Homo sapiens: one gene and its partner. Each later gene encodes a partner of the first gene's protein in a complex. Each region holds a gene or a part of one and is shown in the gene's direction. Other genes may lie near its edges. The genes, in order: CAND2 and CUL1.

The links.
Region 2: the proteins of CAND2 (region 1) and CUL1 are in contact, whole or in part, in a cryo-EM structure (PDB 8VVY), measured with the Homo sapiens proteins. Residues at the interface, in NP_001155971.1 of Homo sapiens: Asp21, Phe22, Phe24, Met25, Asn61, Gly62, Glu63, Gln65, Asn66, Leu67, Glu100, Gln101, Asp104, Asp156, Asp160, Leu189, Ala190, Lys193, Arg194, Glu276, Gln280, Asp343 (codon at 1,695), Asp344 (codon at 1,698), Trp349 (codon at 1,713), Lys350 (codon at 1,716), Arg353 (codon at 1,725), Glu389 (codon at 1,833), Ser492 (codon at 2,940), Ser493 (codon at 2,943), Thr494 (codon at 2,946); in NP_001357589.1 of Homo sapiens: Val31, Thr33, Arg34, Gln35, Met37, Lys39, Tyr42, Met111, Asp112, Trp123, Arg127, Phe128, Val132, Asn181, Leu184, Glu188, Gly193, Glu194, Thr195, Asn197, Thr198, Arg199, Ser202, Gln206, Val209, Glu210, Gly212, Leu213, Asn214, Lys221.

The regions. Positions count from the first base shown.
Region 1 is NC_000003.12:12,813,467-12,820,734, forward strand, and holds part of CAND2 (cullin-associated NEDD8-dissociated protein 2), read left to right. Parts: intron 1-1,674; coding exon 1,675-1,967; intron 1,968-2,400; coding exon 2,401-2,542; intron 2,543-2,907; coding exon 2,908-4,410; intron 4,411-6,619; coding exon 6,620-6,715; intron 6,716-7,268.
Region 2 is NC_000007.14:148,792,824-148,800,091, forward strand, and holds part of CUL1 (cullin-1), read left to right. Parts: intron 1-4,988; coding exon 4,989-5,036; intron 5,037-5,113; coding exon 5,114-5,196; intron 5,197-5,748; coding exon 5,749-5,854; intron 5,855-6,451; coding exon 6,452-6,565; intron 6,566-7,268. UniProt on the Homo sapiens protein: Core component of multiple cullin-RING-based SCF (SKP1-CUL1-F-box protein) E3 ubiquitin-protein ligase complexes, which mediate the ubiquitination of proteins involved in cell cycle progression, signal transduction and transcription.

The DNA.
Region 1 (7,268 bases):
GGTCACATTTGGTGCCCCTGTCCTGATGCCAGCTCTTTCTCAAGCTCCAGTCCCACCCGCTGTGACTGCACAGACCACAGTAATGATAGTAGTCATTGCTGTCATTTATTGAGCATCTACTAGTTGTGTTCCTCACAATAACCCTAAAAAAACAGAAATTATTACCCACGTGTTTCAGACAAGGACACATACTGAGAAGAGAGTGGCCTGAGATAACACAACTAGGAATTGGCATAGCTGGGCCTTAGAGCCAGGTCTGTCAGGCTCCCCCACCTCTGCACTGCCACCGTGTACCCTTTTATGAATGGCTTTCAGGAGATAATGTCTTTAACCCAGCAGAGGAAAGCTCTGATGGTGGAATGGCAGGCACTGGCAGGGGAGCAAGATGTCTCAATGGGGGTGGACTTGATAGCTTCTTTCCTCCTATGCCTGTGGTCCTGTCTGTCATTCAGACAGATTTCCAGGGCAGAGATGCCCCTAGGCCTGAAGGCAGGGCATCGATGGAGACGATGGATTTAGAGCCTGATGGGGTACTTGGAACAAGATGGGATGGTAAATGAGATTGGACAGGCATGCGGGGGCCTTGAATGCCAAGCCAGGGAGGTGGGACACTTGTCAGTAATAGAGAGCTAAGGATGTGTGTTCGTGGGTGGCCTACTGTGGGGGTGACAGTGATCCATTAGAGGGGATGGCTGCTGAGCTGCCCGGTGGCCGTGGCCCACTGTGGCTGTCCAGACACCACCCTGTGGGTCCAAGTGGTCCACAGAGTGGTATGGGCAAGGCCATGCTGGGCTCTGAGCCTGTGCCTTGGGGTGCTCCCAGGCAAGACTGTCCCCCTCTGAGCCTCCTGTGTGCCTCCACAGGTGATAGGGCTGGGCCTCGTGGACCTGAATCTCAGCTCTGCTGTTCCTCGCTGTGTGCCCTGAGAGTCTCACCCGCTCTGAGTCTTAGTCTTATCGTCTGTAAAATGGAGCTTGGCAGTACCTTCACTTTTGAGGTGATGGTAAAGACTGCACGAGCCCTTGACTTTCAGGGAGATTGTCAGGTAGAAAGCCACACAAACCCAGCATTTCCTCTTTATTAATCCTGCCTGGAAGCCTTTGGAATCAGGACCCTTGAGAGGCAGAGATCGGGGGAGAGAAGAGGCCAAAGGGAGGCTCTGTCCCTTCTCCCTTCTGGAGTCCCAGTAAACGAAACATCACATAGCCAAACCTGATGCCAAAAGATGAGTTTTGTGCCCCAAATTGATTCTCCAAGTCTACATGAAGACTTGGAAGTCTGTTTTTTCCCTGGTACAGTCCAGACAATTAAGGGTCTGGAGGCAGAGGGGAGGACCCTAGTTTAACTCCAAGTATTTCCTTAACTTGGGGCAAGCCACTTCCTCTATCTAAACCCCAGTTTTCTCATCTCTATAATGGGGAAATAATCCCTGTCTCAAAAGGTCGTCATGAAGCTAAAATAAGATTATGGGTTTGACATGCTTAGCCCCATCCGTAGCACTCAGTAGATGCCCATTAAAAGGTAGGGAATGTTCCCCATAGGGTATCTATAAATGCTGATCATCAAAAAGTGAAGCACAGTGCCCAGCTCTCTCTCCTCCCTGTCCCTTCTCCCCCGAGCCACAGACCTGTCCTGGGAGATGAGGGTTCCACGTGTGTCTTGTTCCTGCCCCAGAGAGTGAAGACGAGTACAGCGATGACGATGACATGAGCTGGAAGGTGCGCCGGGCAGCTGCCAAGTGCATCGCAGCCTTGATCAGCTCGCGGCCTGACCTGCTGCCCGATTTCCACTGCACCCTGGCACCTGTGCTCATCCGCCGCTTCAAAGAACGCGAGGAGAACGTCAAGGCTGACGTCTTCACTGCTTACATCGTGCTGCTGCGGCAAACACAGCCCCCGAAGGGATGGCTGGAGGCCATGGAGGAACCCACCCAGACCGGCAGCAACCTCCATATGCTACGTGGACAGGTGGGCGTGCCTTCACCTCCACCCCTACCCCCGATTTGCCTACCCAGCCACTCACTGTTAGTGTCCCTGGACTTGGAAACTCAGCTGGGAGAACATCCAGCCATGGAAGGGAAGGGAAGGGGTCCCTGGGGTGGGGGGCGGGAGCCAGCCAGGCTTCTGGAGTGTAGTAGTGACAGCCAGCCTGCCTGAGTGAGCTTGAGCAAGTTGCTTGGTCTCTCTGTACCTGTAAAATGGACGCAGAAAATTTGCCTACTCTCCAAGGGTCTGTGTGCGGTCACCAAAAGCCTGGCACAGAGTGAGGGACGAGTGCTTGGGAGATATCTTGATGCCGACATCCTCCCTGGGGATGTGTCTGGCAAAGCCTCCTGGTAGTGGGCAGGTGGGTAGGTTTCTTGGGTGTTCCCTGACCTTGACTTCCCCCTCCTGCCCACAGGTGCCCCTTGTGGTCAAGGCCCTGCAGCGGCAGCTTAAAGATCGGAGCGTCAGAGCCCGCCAGGGATGCTTCAGCCTCCTCACCGAGCTGGCGGGTGTCCTCCCAGGCAGCCTGGCCGAGCATATGCCTGTGCTGGTATCAGGTAGGCTGGACTGCAACCAGGTATCTGCTGTTCTGGGCCACTTCCAGAACCCAGACCCCACCCCTGAGTTGAGCCCCCAGTTCCTGAGACAGTCTGAGACCCAATCCCAGGCTCAGTCCCTGGTCAAGAGTCTCCAGTGGCCTCCCACTACCAGCAGTGAGAACAAGGCTGGCTCCAGTGAGTTCCCTGGACATGTTTCCCTCAGCCCTGGCCACTGGTCAGGGCTGACTTCTTGGAAACTTCTGCAGAAGAGTTTAGGTGCTTCAGTCCAGCTCAGGCACTTGTAGGTACCCCAGCCTTGCTTCCAGGGAGGGCCGTGTTGCATCAGAGGCGGTGGCCTCATAACCTTTGCATTCACCCTGCAGGCATCATCTTCTCGCTGGCCGACCGCTCCAGCTCCTCCACCATCCGGATGGATGCCCTGGCCTTCTTGCAGGGGCTGCTGGGCACCGAACCAGCTGAGGCCTTCCACCCACACTTGCCTATCCTCCTGCCACCTGTGATGGCCTGTGTGGCTGACTCTTTCTACAAGATTGCAGCCGAGGCCCTGGTGGTGCTGCAGGAGCTGGTGCGGGCCCTGTGGCCGCTGCACAGGCCTCGGATGCTGGATCCTGAGCCATATGTTGGAGAGATGTCTGCTGTCACCCTGGCGCGACTTCGTGCCACTGACCTGGACCAGGAGGTGAAGGAGCGGGCCATTTCCTGCATGGGCCACCTTGTAGGCCACCTGGGTGACCGGCTTGGGGATGACCTGGAGCCCACGTTACTGCTCCTCCTGGACCGCCTGCGGAATGAGATCACCCGGCTGCCCGCCATCAAGGCGCTTACGCTGGTGGCCGTATCCCCACTACAGCTTGACCTACAGCCCATCCTGGCCGAGGCACTGCACATTCTGGCCTCATTCCTGCGGAAGAACCAGCGGGCTTTGCGACTGGCCACACTGGCAGCCCTGGACGCCCTGGCCCAGAGCCAGGGCCTCAGCCTCCCACCGTCTGCCGTGCAGGCCGTGCTGGCTGAGCTGCCTGCCCTGGTCAACGAGAGCGACATGCATGTGGCCCAGCTGGCTGTGGACTTCCTTGCCACAGTGACCCAGGCCCAGCCAGCCTCTTTGGTGGAGGTCAGTGGCCCTGTGCTCTCAGAGCTGCTGCGGCTGCTGCGTTCGCCCCTGTTGCCAGCCGGGGTTCTGGCAGCTGCTGAAGGCTTCCTGCAGGCCCTGGTAGGGACCCGTCCCCCGTGTGTGGACTATGCCAAACTCATCAGCCTGCTCACTGCGCCTGTTTATGAGCAGGCTGTGGATGGTGGGCCTGGCCTGCACAAGCAGGTGTTCCACTCATTGGCCCGGTGTGTGGCAGCCCTCTCAGCTGCCTGTCCCCAAGAGGCGGCAAGCACAGCCAGTCGCCTGGTCTGCGATGCCAGGTCGCCCCACTCCAGCACGGGGGTCAAGGTCCTGGCATTCTTGTCGCTGGCTGAGGTGGGTCAGGTGGCTGGGCCAGGCCACCAGCGGGAGCTGAAGGCGGTGCTCCTGGAAGCTTTGGGGTCACCCAGTGAGGATGTGAGGGCTGCAGCCTCGTATGCACTGGGCCGTGTGGGTGCTGGCAGCCTGCCCGACTTCCTGCCCTTCCTGCTGGAGCAGATCGAGGCTGAGCCCCGACGACAGTACCTGCTGCTGCACTCACTCAGGGAGGCCCTGGGGGCCGCCCAGCCTGACAGCCTGAAGCCCTACGCCGAGGACATCTGGGCCTTGCTGTTCCAGCGCTGCGAGGGTGCTGAGGAGGGCACCCGGGGGGTGGTGGCCGAGTGCATTGGGAAGCTGGTCCTTGTGAACCCTTCGTTCCTTCTGCCCCGCTTGCGGAAGCAGCTTGCTGCAGGTAGGCACACAGGTGTGGGCAAGGCAGCCCACCTCGGAGGTGGGCAGTTTGCCACTGAGCATCCAGGCAGCTGGGGCAGAGTGAGCTATTTCAAGTCACTGGATACAAGAATCACGGTATCTATACGACAGAGGCAAGGAAGCTACAGAGGAACACACAGTGATACCTGAGACTTAAAGCCTTCCTCCTATGGGACTGTGGGATAGAAGGGACAGAGTCCTTGATTGGTCCCTACAACAAATACATTTAAAAATCTCATGATGTTGGCTAGGCATGGTGGCACATGTCTGTAATCCCAGCACTTTGGGGAGGCTGAGGTGGGTGGATCACTTGAGCCTAGGAGTTTGAGACCAGCCTGGGCAACATGGTGAGACCCTGCCTCTACCAAAAAAAAAAACAAAACAAAAAACCTCATGATGCCAACTTCATAATCCTTGATGTGGACAGTAGCTTAGTGCTCCACACAGAGGTCAACAAAAACAGTTTTCCCAGTAGCCGTAGACTGCAGCCTGCAGAGGGTCAGCTCTTTCGGCTAGCCTGAGCCAAGAGCAGACGTCAGTATAGACGGGGACAGGCTGACATGCCCCCGAGGCTTGGAGAGGGCTGGGCAAGAACCAGGAGGGGCAGGCGTTTTGGCTTGTCGTGTTTTGGCACACCAGGTGTCTTAGCTTCAGGAGGTGGAAAGCAGACAGGTAGGGTCATCAGGCTCCTAGGAAAATGAGAGTTCCCAGAATGAAAGGCCAGTGGGCTTCGAGCTGGCCAGCTGGCCCCTTACAGAACCAGTGGATGCTCTGCTTGACAGAATGCAGGTACAGTGTTTGGTAACCTATGTGGTACCTACAGTAATTAATACTGAGTAAATCAAGAGCTGCTGTTGTTACTAGGTAGGTTAGTGATTTCAGTTAAGGCCTTCTTGGGTTGCTGGGTTCGTAAGAAGCAGTTGTCTGGCCTCAGGACTGGATGGAAGAACATTGTTGAGGACACTGTCTATTACATCACACAACCTTGAGAGACGAGAGTGTTAAGATGCAGAGGAGCCCTGCTTTGCCTAAACACCTATTTGTTTCTATCTCACGTGCACTGTTGAACCAGCCACCCGGTCACATTTCCTTTTTAGCACCAACTGCTGGGAAGCTTAGAGCCAGATGAGTGGTCTGCTTCTAGTAGGTTCCTGGGACTTCCTTATTGATGCTCTCTGTACATCTTCCTGCTAGTCTCCTTCTCACCTCCCTGCCTTCAGTCGTCCTTGGCCTTGTTCTTGTTTTCAGTTCACTTAATCTTACTCTCTTGTGCCTGTCTTCATCAGCCACCCTAAATCTTCCTGGGAGCCAGTCAGGCTGGCAAGGGAAAGAGGTAAAAGCTGAAAGTCTGAATTCAGTAACTCTTCCATTCATTCATGCCTTAGCACCAAATGGTAAACTTTTCCTCGAGGCTGAACATAAAGCCTGTGGGGTGGAAACACCTTAGCCCATTCACTGCATTGTGCTGGGGTTGGGCAGGGAGCAAAGGGGGCGAGCCACTGAGGAGAGATTCAGACGCAGGTGGAGCGTCCACCCATTCGTTTCCTTCATTAAGGGAATGTACTTCCCCTCTTTACTGGGCTTCTCTACTCAGAAAGCAAGCGGCAAAGCACAAGTAAGCAAGCTCTCTGTGACCGAGCCTGGAGGTGATCCGAGTTCTGTTAGGCCTCCCTGACCACCAGCCAGAACGCAGCCCCAGGAAGAGGGGCCCAGCCAGGAATTCTGGATCTGCTGTGTGGCCCTAGACATGAACTTAAACCCTCTGAGTCTCTCTTTCCTCATATGTCAAAGAGATGATTTTTATTGGTGATTTTATTGGTTCTTTTAATACTACTTTATTATTAATAGGATCATTGTTAGGACTCATTGAGATAACATGTCTGAAAAATCCCAAGGCCTGAGGGAAGGTCTTTGTTGGAGCAGTTCCTGTCTTGGTTATTGGTTCCCTGTTTGCAGCCTGTGGTGTTACCTGAGCACTGGCAGTCCTACTGTTTCAGCTGCAGCAGGAAGAATTGAGGGGAGATTCAAGGCTGCCAAGGGAAATGGTAGAATCCACTTTCCCAGAGATGGGGAGGGGGTACAGTTCTGTTTTCCAGGGAAGCAGGGGGAGGAGCCTAAGCACCTTCTGATCTGTGAGCCTCCAGGATTGGCCCCTGCCCCTCACTAACTCACCTCTTCTTGTCCTGCAGGTCGGCCACACACCCGGAGCACCGTCATCACAGCGGTCAAGTTCCTTATCTCGGACCAGCCCCATCCCATTGACCCCCTCCTGAAGAGCTTCATCGGTGAGCACCTACCTCTTGCCCCTCCACCTTGTTCAGTGCCCCCACCCAGTCCTTGAGCTTGGGCTGATGTTTACTACCCAATAGCCAAGGGCAATGGGAGACCCGGGAGGTGTGCCCATGATGGGCAGCAGGGCCTGGCCCTCCAGTTAAAAGGCCTGGGTTCACATCCCTGCCTTCCTACTGCCACTCAATCATGGGTGGGTGTGGCATGCCCATCACACCTCTAAGCCTCGCTTTCCTCATCTGTCAAATGGGCGTGAGAAACTCTTATTATCTGCATTTTCTAGAGTTGTCCTGGAAGCCCATGGGCAACTGAGGGAGAAGATGCTTCATCAACATATAGACTCTTGGGAATGGAAAACCACCAGCCTCTCACATGCCTTAGCTTTTGCGGGCCCCAAAGTGGGGCAGGGAAGAGTGCTCCCCCCGGCCCCGCCTGTCCACTAGATCGCCCTCTGTCTGAGGGGCCTTCTGGCCTGAGGAGCCCAAGCAGCCTTCACTGGGAGGAGAGGAACTGAGACCTCCCTCTGGGGCTCGGCAGGACCACTGGGTT
Region 2 (7,268 bases), on another chromosome or scaffold:
CTCATCTCAGGCTCGTTGTTCTATCAGCTTGCCGTTTCCTTGTTCTCGTGGATATTGTTAGGAAAGATAAGGAAGAGGATATGGGCATCTTTAATTTGAAATAGATGTTTGCCTCATGAATATGAATATGGCCTTATTCCAGGATTTTAATACGCACTACAAAAAGCTTCATGTTAAAACTCATTGTTGAGCCAGGCATGGTGGCACATGCCTGTAGTCCCAGCTTCTTGGGAGGCTGGGGCGGGAGGATCACTTGAGCCTGGGAGGTCGAGGCTGCAGTGAGCTATGATCGTGCCACTGTACTCCAGCGTGGGTGACAGAGACCCTGTCTCTTAAAAATAAAACTACGTGTAACACACACACACATACTCCTCATCCATGCTTTTCTCTCATTCATTTAACCAGTTAGGCTTTTCTTACTAAGCTTAAATTTCCACTTTAGTATTATTTTTCCTGCTAGCCATATTTTTTATTGAGATATATTTTAGATAATAAAATTTGACATAACATAAAAGTCATTTTAAAGTGTACAAAGTGGTTTTTAGTATATTCACAAGCTTATAGAACTACCACCATTATCCAATTCCAGAGTGTTTTATCACCCCAAAAAGAAACCTGCACCCATTAGCAGTAACTGCCCGCTAGCTCCCAGCCCCTGACAACCATTAATTTGCTATCAATTTGCCTACTCCAGACATTTCATATAAATGGAATCATATAACACATGACTTTCTGTGCCTGCCTTCTTTCCCTCAGTGTATACTGTTTGCAAGGTTTGCCCATGTTCTAGCATGTGTTGGTACTTCATTTCTTTTTGTGGTCGAATAATCCAATGTATAGATGGACCACATTTTATTTGTTCATCAGTTGATGTACATTTAAGTTGTTTCCAATTATGAACAATGCTGCTGTGAATACATGTTTTCAATTTTCCTGGGTATATACCTAGGTATAGAATTGCTGAGTCATGTAATAGCTGAATTTTTTGAGGCACTGCCAGACTGTTCCATAGTGGCTGTGCCATTTCATATTCTCACCAACAGTGTATGAAACTTTCAGTTTCTCCATATCCTCACCAACATTTGTTATTTTCATTTTTAAAAAAAATTATAGCCATCCCAGTGGATGTGAAGTAGTATCTTGCAGTTTTTGACTTGCATTTCTCTAACAACTAATGATGTGTAGAATCTTTTTTGTGTTTATTGCCATTTGTATATCTTCTTTGGAGAAATGTTTGATCAAATTCTTTGCCCATTTTTCAGTTGGGTTATTTGTCTTTTTGTTGTTGAGTCGTAAGAATTCTTTTAATATTCTGTATACTAGATCCTTATCAAATATGTAATTTACAAATGTTTTTTCCCATTCTGTGGGTTGTCTTCTTACTTTCTTATATACACACATTTTTAATTTTGATGAAGCCTATTTTATCTATTTTTTCTTTATATTGTTTGTGGTTTTGGTGTCATTTTTAAGGAATCATTGCCTAGTCTGAGGCCAAGGACTATTCTCTCCCTATTGTTTGGTGCTGGCAAACTTGTCAAAAGTCAGTTGGCCATAGGTATATATGGGTTTATTTCTGGATTCTCAATTATTTTCCAGTGATCTGTATATCTTTACTATGCCAGTATCACACTGTCTGGATTACTGTTGTTTTGCAGTAAATCTTGAAATCGAGACCCCTAACTTCGTTTTATTTTCCCCCAAGATTATATTGGCTATTCTGGATCCCTTATGTTACCTTATGAATTTCAAGATCAGCTTGTCCATTTCTACAAAAAGTGCAGTTGAGATTTTGATAAGGATTGCACTGAATCTATAGATTGCTTTGGGGAGTATTGCCATCTCAGCAGTATTTTAAGTCTCCCACTCCATGAACATGGGATGTCTTTTCATCTATTTAGGTTGTCTTTTCTTTCAACTGTGTCTCATGGTTTTCAGTGTATGCATCTTCTACTACTTTCAATTTATTCCTAGTTTATTCTTTTTGATGCTATTATAAATGGAATTGGTTTTTAGTTTTTTAATTGAGACGGAGTCTTGCTCTGTCTCCTAGGCTGGAGTGCAGTGGTGCAATCTTGGCTCACTGCAACCTCCGCCTCCTGGGTTCCAGCAATTCTCCCACCTCAGCCTCCCAAGTAGCTGGGATTACAGGCGTGCGCCACCATGCCTGGCTAATTTTTTGTATTTTTAGTACAGACAGGGTTTCACCATGTTGACCAGGCTGGTCTTGAACTCCTGACCTCAAGTGATCTGCCTGCCTCGGCCTCCCAAAGTGCTGGGATTATAGGCGTGAGCCACCGTGCCTGGCAGAGTTGTTTTCTTAATTTCACTTTTTTCTGTTTTTTTGAGACAGGGTCTCTTGCTCAGGCTGGAGTGCAATGGTGCAGTCATAGCTCACTGCGGTATCAAATGATCCTCTCTCCTCAGCCTCCTGAGTAGCTGGCACTACAGGCGCTTGCCACCATGCTCAGCTAATTTTTGTATTTTTTGTAGAGATGGTGTTTCACTGTGTTGCCCAGATTGGTCTTGAACTCCTGGGCTCAAGTGACACTTTCACCTTGGCCTCCCAAAGTGCTGGGATTACACAGGCATGAGCCACCATGCCAGCCTGTTCCACTTTCTGATTGCTCGTTGCTAATGTATAGAAGTACAACTAAGTACCGCAGGGTGTGGTGGCTCACGCCTGTAATCCCAGCACTTTGGGAGCCCGAGGCGGGCGGATCACGAGGTCAGGAGATCGAGACCATCCTGGCTAACATGGTGAAACCCAGTCTCTACTAAAAATACAAAAACAAAATTAGCCGGGCGTGGTGGCAGGTGCCTGTAGTCCCAGCTACTCGGGAGGCTGAGGCGAGAGAATGGTGTGAACCCAGGAGGCGCAGCTTGCAGTGAGCCCTGATTGCGCCACTGCACTCCAGCCTGGGCGACAGAGCAAGACTCTGTCTCAAAAAAAAAAAAAAAAAAAGGTACAACTAATTATTGTATTTTGATTCTGTTTCCTATAACATTGCTAAATGTTTATTAGCTCTAATTTATTAGCTCAAATAGTTTTTGGGGGGATTCCTTAGAGTTTTTTGATATACTGTCATATCATCTATAAATACAGGCAGTTTTGCTTCTTCCTTTTCTTATTTGGCTGCCTTTTATTTCTTTTTTGTTTGTCTTTGTTTTTGCCTGATTCTTCTGGCTAGAATTTGTGGCAAGAACAAGCATCCTTGTCTTGTTACTGCCCTTATTGGGAAAGCTTCCAGTCTTTTACTGTTTAACTGTGATGTTAAAGAGTGATGGTGTTAGCTGTGAGCTTTTACTAGATGTCCTTTATCAGACTAAAGAGGTTCCCTTTTATTCTTAGTTTATTGAATTTTGTATCATGCAAGAGTGTTGTATTTTGTCAAAATGCTTTTTCTACTCTGTCAAAATAACTGCTTTTTTGTCTGTTAATATGGTGTATTGCACTGATGTTGAACCACCCTGGTGTTCTTAGGGTGAGTCCCACTTGGTCATGGTATATAATCCTTTTTCTATGTTGTTGGGTTTAGCTTGCCGGTATTTTCTCGAGTTTTGCATTTATATTCATAAGGGATATTGCTCCATTGTTTTCTCAAGATGTTCGTTTGGTTTTCGTGTCTGGCTAATCCTGGCCTTATGGACTGAGTTAGGAAAGTCATTTTGAATGACTATTTTGTAATCATTCTTCGAATTACTCCTAAATATATCTTCAGATTCTAATAACAAAATGAGTTTGTGCCTTTGTAGGTTGGAGGCCTGGTTGCCCCCTAGACTGTGGGGAGGGCTGTGCAGACGGGTCCTGAGGACAGGGCTGACAGGTGTGGACTGTCAGGTCTTTGCTTGGCTGCTTCTGATCAGGATTTTAGGCCAGTCTCCTGAGTGGTTCTCAGTGTTAGAACTCCCTCAGGAGGCTGCCGCTGCTCTCTCCTTTCTGCCCACAGTAGATGCTGTCCAATCAGACCTGGCTCAGGAAGTGGGCACCCCCGCACCCTGCTCTAGATGCAGTGGGCAGTATTCGAATGGCTGCTGGCAGTTCTGGGTCAGTTACTAGACTAGAGAGAGGCCTCTCGCTTTGACAGCTTTCACCACGTATCCTCAGACCAGAATGGGTACCCATTATGACGACAGGACTCCACTGCCCGTGGGTTGTAAGAGTCCGTGTGACTCTGTGAGTGCCCTCAGGCTGGTCCCTTGGATTTCATGGGATCATAAAGCTGTGAGGCTGAAGGAGGGCTGGGAAGCGTTTACCACACCCACCATTCACAGATGAGAGGCCACACAACGTGCTTGAGTGCATCAAAGGCAAGTTGACAAGGTCGCCTGCCGCTGAGCCCCACTGTTCTCATGAGCAGGACATTATTTTCAGTCTTGCTGGGCAGCTCTTTAATATTTCTTTTGTGATGATCAGTGTCCAAGATGAGCTGTCAGGCACTTAAGAAGTGAAGAGTTCCTGAAGATTTCATTGTGCATGGTTTCCAATACAGGTTCAACATCCCTAATCCAAAAATCCAGATTCCAGAATGCTCCACAATCCAAACATTTTTGAGCACCAACATGATGCTCAAAAAAAAAAAAAAAAAATGCTCATGGCGCAGTTGAAATTTCGGATTTTCCAATCAGGGCTGCTGAATCTGTAAATCCAGTGCAGTATTCCGAAATCCAAACACTTCTAGTCCCAGGCATTTCAGATAAGGGTTACTCAACCTGATTTAAGTATAACAGAATTGTTCATTTCTATTATTGTGTGATCAAGGCCAGAAAGGGGTTGATTTCACTTCTAGAAGTCAGGGTGGAAGGAAGCAGTAAATTTAGTGAACTTCTAAGAAGTACCAACTTTTTTTTCCTTCCAGCATACTCTTCTTTTGGGTGATTTTTTTTTTTTTTTTTAATGGAAAATGGACTGTGAGGTTGCCTGTGGTGGTTATTGCAAAGAAAAATGCATTTTCCCTTTAACTTCCTCTTTTTCTCTTTAATTGCAGGACATTTTGGCGCAAGTTTTACAGATTTTATTAAAGTCGAAGCTATTGGTAGGTTTGCGCCCTTTTATCTTACACTAGAAGAAGCCTTTTCCTGAGATTGTAGAGTAACAATTGTTTTCTTACAGGTCTTGGAAGATGAAAATGCAAATGTTGATGAGGTGGAATTGAAGCCAGATACCTTAATAAAATTATATCTTGGTTATAAAAAGTAAGAAAAATCTAATAAGTAGATGGCCCTTGACCATAGACACGTCCCCCGGGAGCCCTAGCACGGATCTCAGTATTGTTACAAACCAAGGGAGACCGGGGACTCAGTGTGAAGCGACAGGCACTAGGCTGGGAGTGTGAGGTAGGCCTTTGATTCCATTCAGCGAGCCTGATGTTTCTCCAATTCTGAGCTTCTGGGATTTTTATTATTTTGGCAAATAAGTCTCCTTAAATGGCTCACCAAGAAAGTTTGGACCTTTGTGTCCAAGTGGCTTGATTTTATCTCACTTGACAAAATTTGGGAGAGCAGATTAGGGACCTGGATTTTCTGTAATGTGGATGTCCCTGTTAATGGCCGAGTAGGAAACTAGGCCATGATCGGACTCTACCCAGTGCTGGGTAGAGGACATTTTCACGGAGAGCTCACAGAAATCAACATTCTCCCCTCTGTCTAGGGAAGCAGGGCACTTCTTAAAGGTTGAAAAATAGAAAGCAGCCTTCACTGCCTACCTTTTAATATAATAGTGATCGGTTTCCTCATTTTTCTTGATAGTAAGAAATTAAGGGTTAACATCAATGTGCCAATGAAAACCGAACAGAAGCAGGAACAAGAAACCACACACAAAAACATCGAGGAAGACCGCAAACTACTGATTCAGGTGACTTATCTGTATGCCTGTGCCAGGTGTGCTGTCCCTCACGCAGGGATGGCTCGCAAGGACGGGCCGTGGGGGGTAGGCGGGGGTGACAAAGGAGTGATTGCCAGATGAATGGGTCTGTGATGGCAGAAGGTGGCAAGGCCGAGAGCCAGGGCCTTGTTATCTGAATTAGTCCTTTATGTCACCAGGCAAAACAGGGCAGTCCTCTTGCTCTAAATGTTGGAAAGCAAACATTGTGGCAGGTTTGGCTGAAATGAGGGGGAAGGAGAGTTCTTCAGTGGGGAGGATGGGCAGCTTCCGTGGCCTTGAAGATTTAATTTTGTCTCCTTTTTTTTAATGCTTTATGGTTGAGTTAAATTATTGAGGTAAAATTGCTCAAAAGACCCAAACATTGTAATGTTTGCCACGTTAGAGTTGAAACATAGGCAGGTAGAATTGGTTCCCTCTCCCGTCTCACCTGCAGGATGTTTGTTGCCTGTTAGGAAATTGTGATCCTGTGCATAGGCGTCGGCAGCCTCTGTGCAGCTTGTCCTTAACTATCAATACAACGTTGTTACAGCTCTAAATGCACTTCTTTTTCCTTATCTTGTTGCATAGGCGGCCATCGTGAGAATCATGAAGATGAGGAAGGTTCTGAAACACCAGCAGTTACTTGGCGAGGTCCTCACTCAGCTGTCCTCCAGGTTCAAACCTCGAGTCCCTGTGATCAAGGTACAGGACTTTACATAGCAGTCACATTCCTTTCTTAATTTAGAAGATAAAAGATGTAGCAAAAAGTGGATTGATTGCTGTAGCATGAAGGAGGAGGGAGCTGGCTTCTTTGTATGTAGATTTCTATAAAAGAAAGTCGGCTTCAGTTTAACTGTTGAAACACACATACAAAGTGCACAGATGATGAAGTGCCAGCTTGATGACTTTCACAGTCAATACACTGTGTGATCAGCACCCAGGTAAGAATTGAAACATGCCCGGCATCCCGGAAGCCCACCCACCCCAGCCAGCACCTGTGTCCCATAGAAAATCACTGTCGTGTCTTCTGACACCATAAAACAGTTTTGCCTGCTTTTGCGTGATACATAAACAGATTCTAGAGCACACACTCCCGTGCCTGGTAAGAATTTCCTCAGCAGTATCTTCGGGAGGTTCGTCGCATTGCGGTATCGAGAAGCACTGGGTCGTTTTTGTTGCTTTTATGGGTGTTGTGTTATGGGAACACACCTTCCTTTATGTAGCCTACTGATAATTGACATTTTGCTTATTTCTGATTGGGTTTGTTTAAAATGGTAACTAAGCAGGACTTTCCTTTTCCTAAACCACTTGGGTAAGTCACAGCCAGTGGAGAGACTCAGGGGTGGCATTGACAGGTGACTTCCCCAACAGGCAGGAGGCCCAGTGTCCCTCCTGGGTTACATTT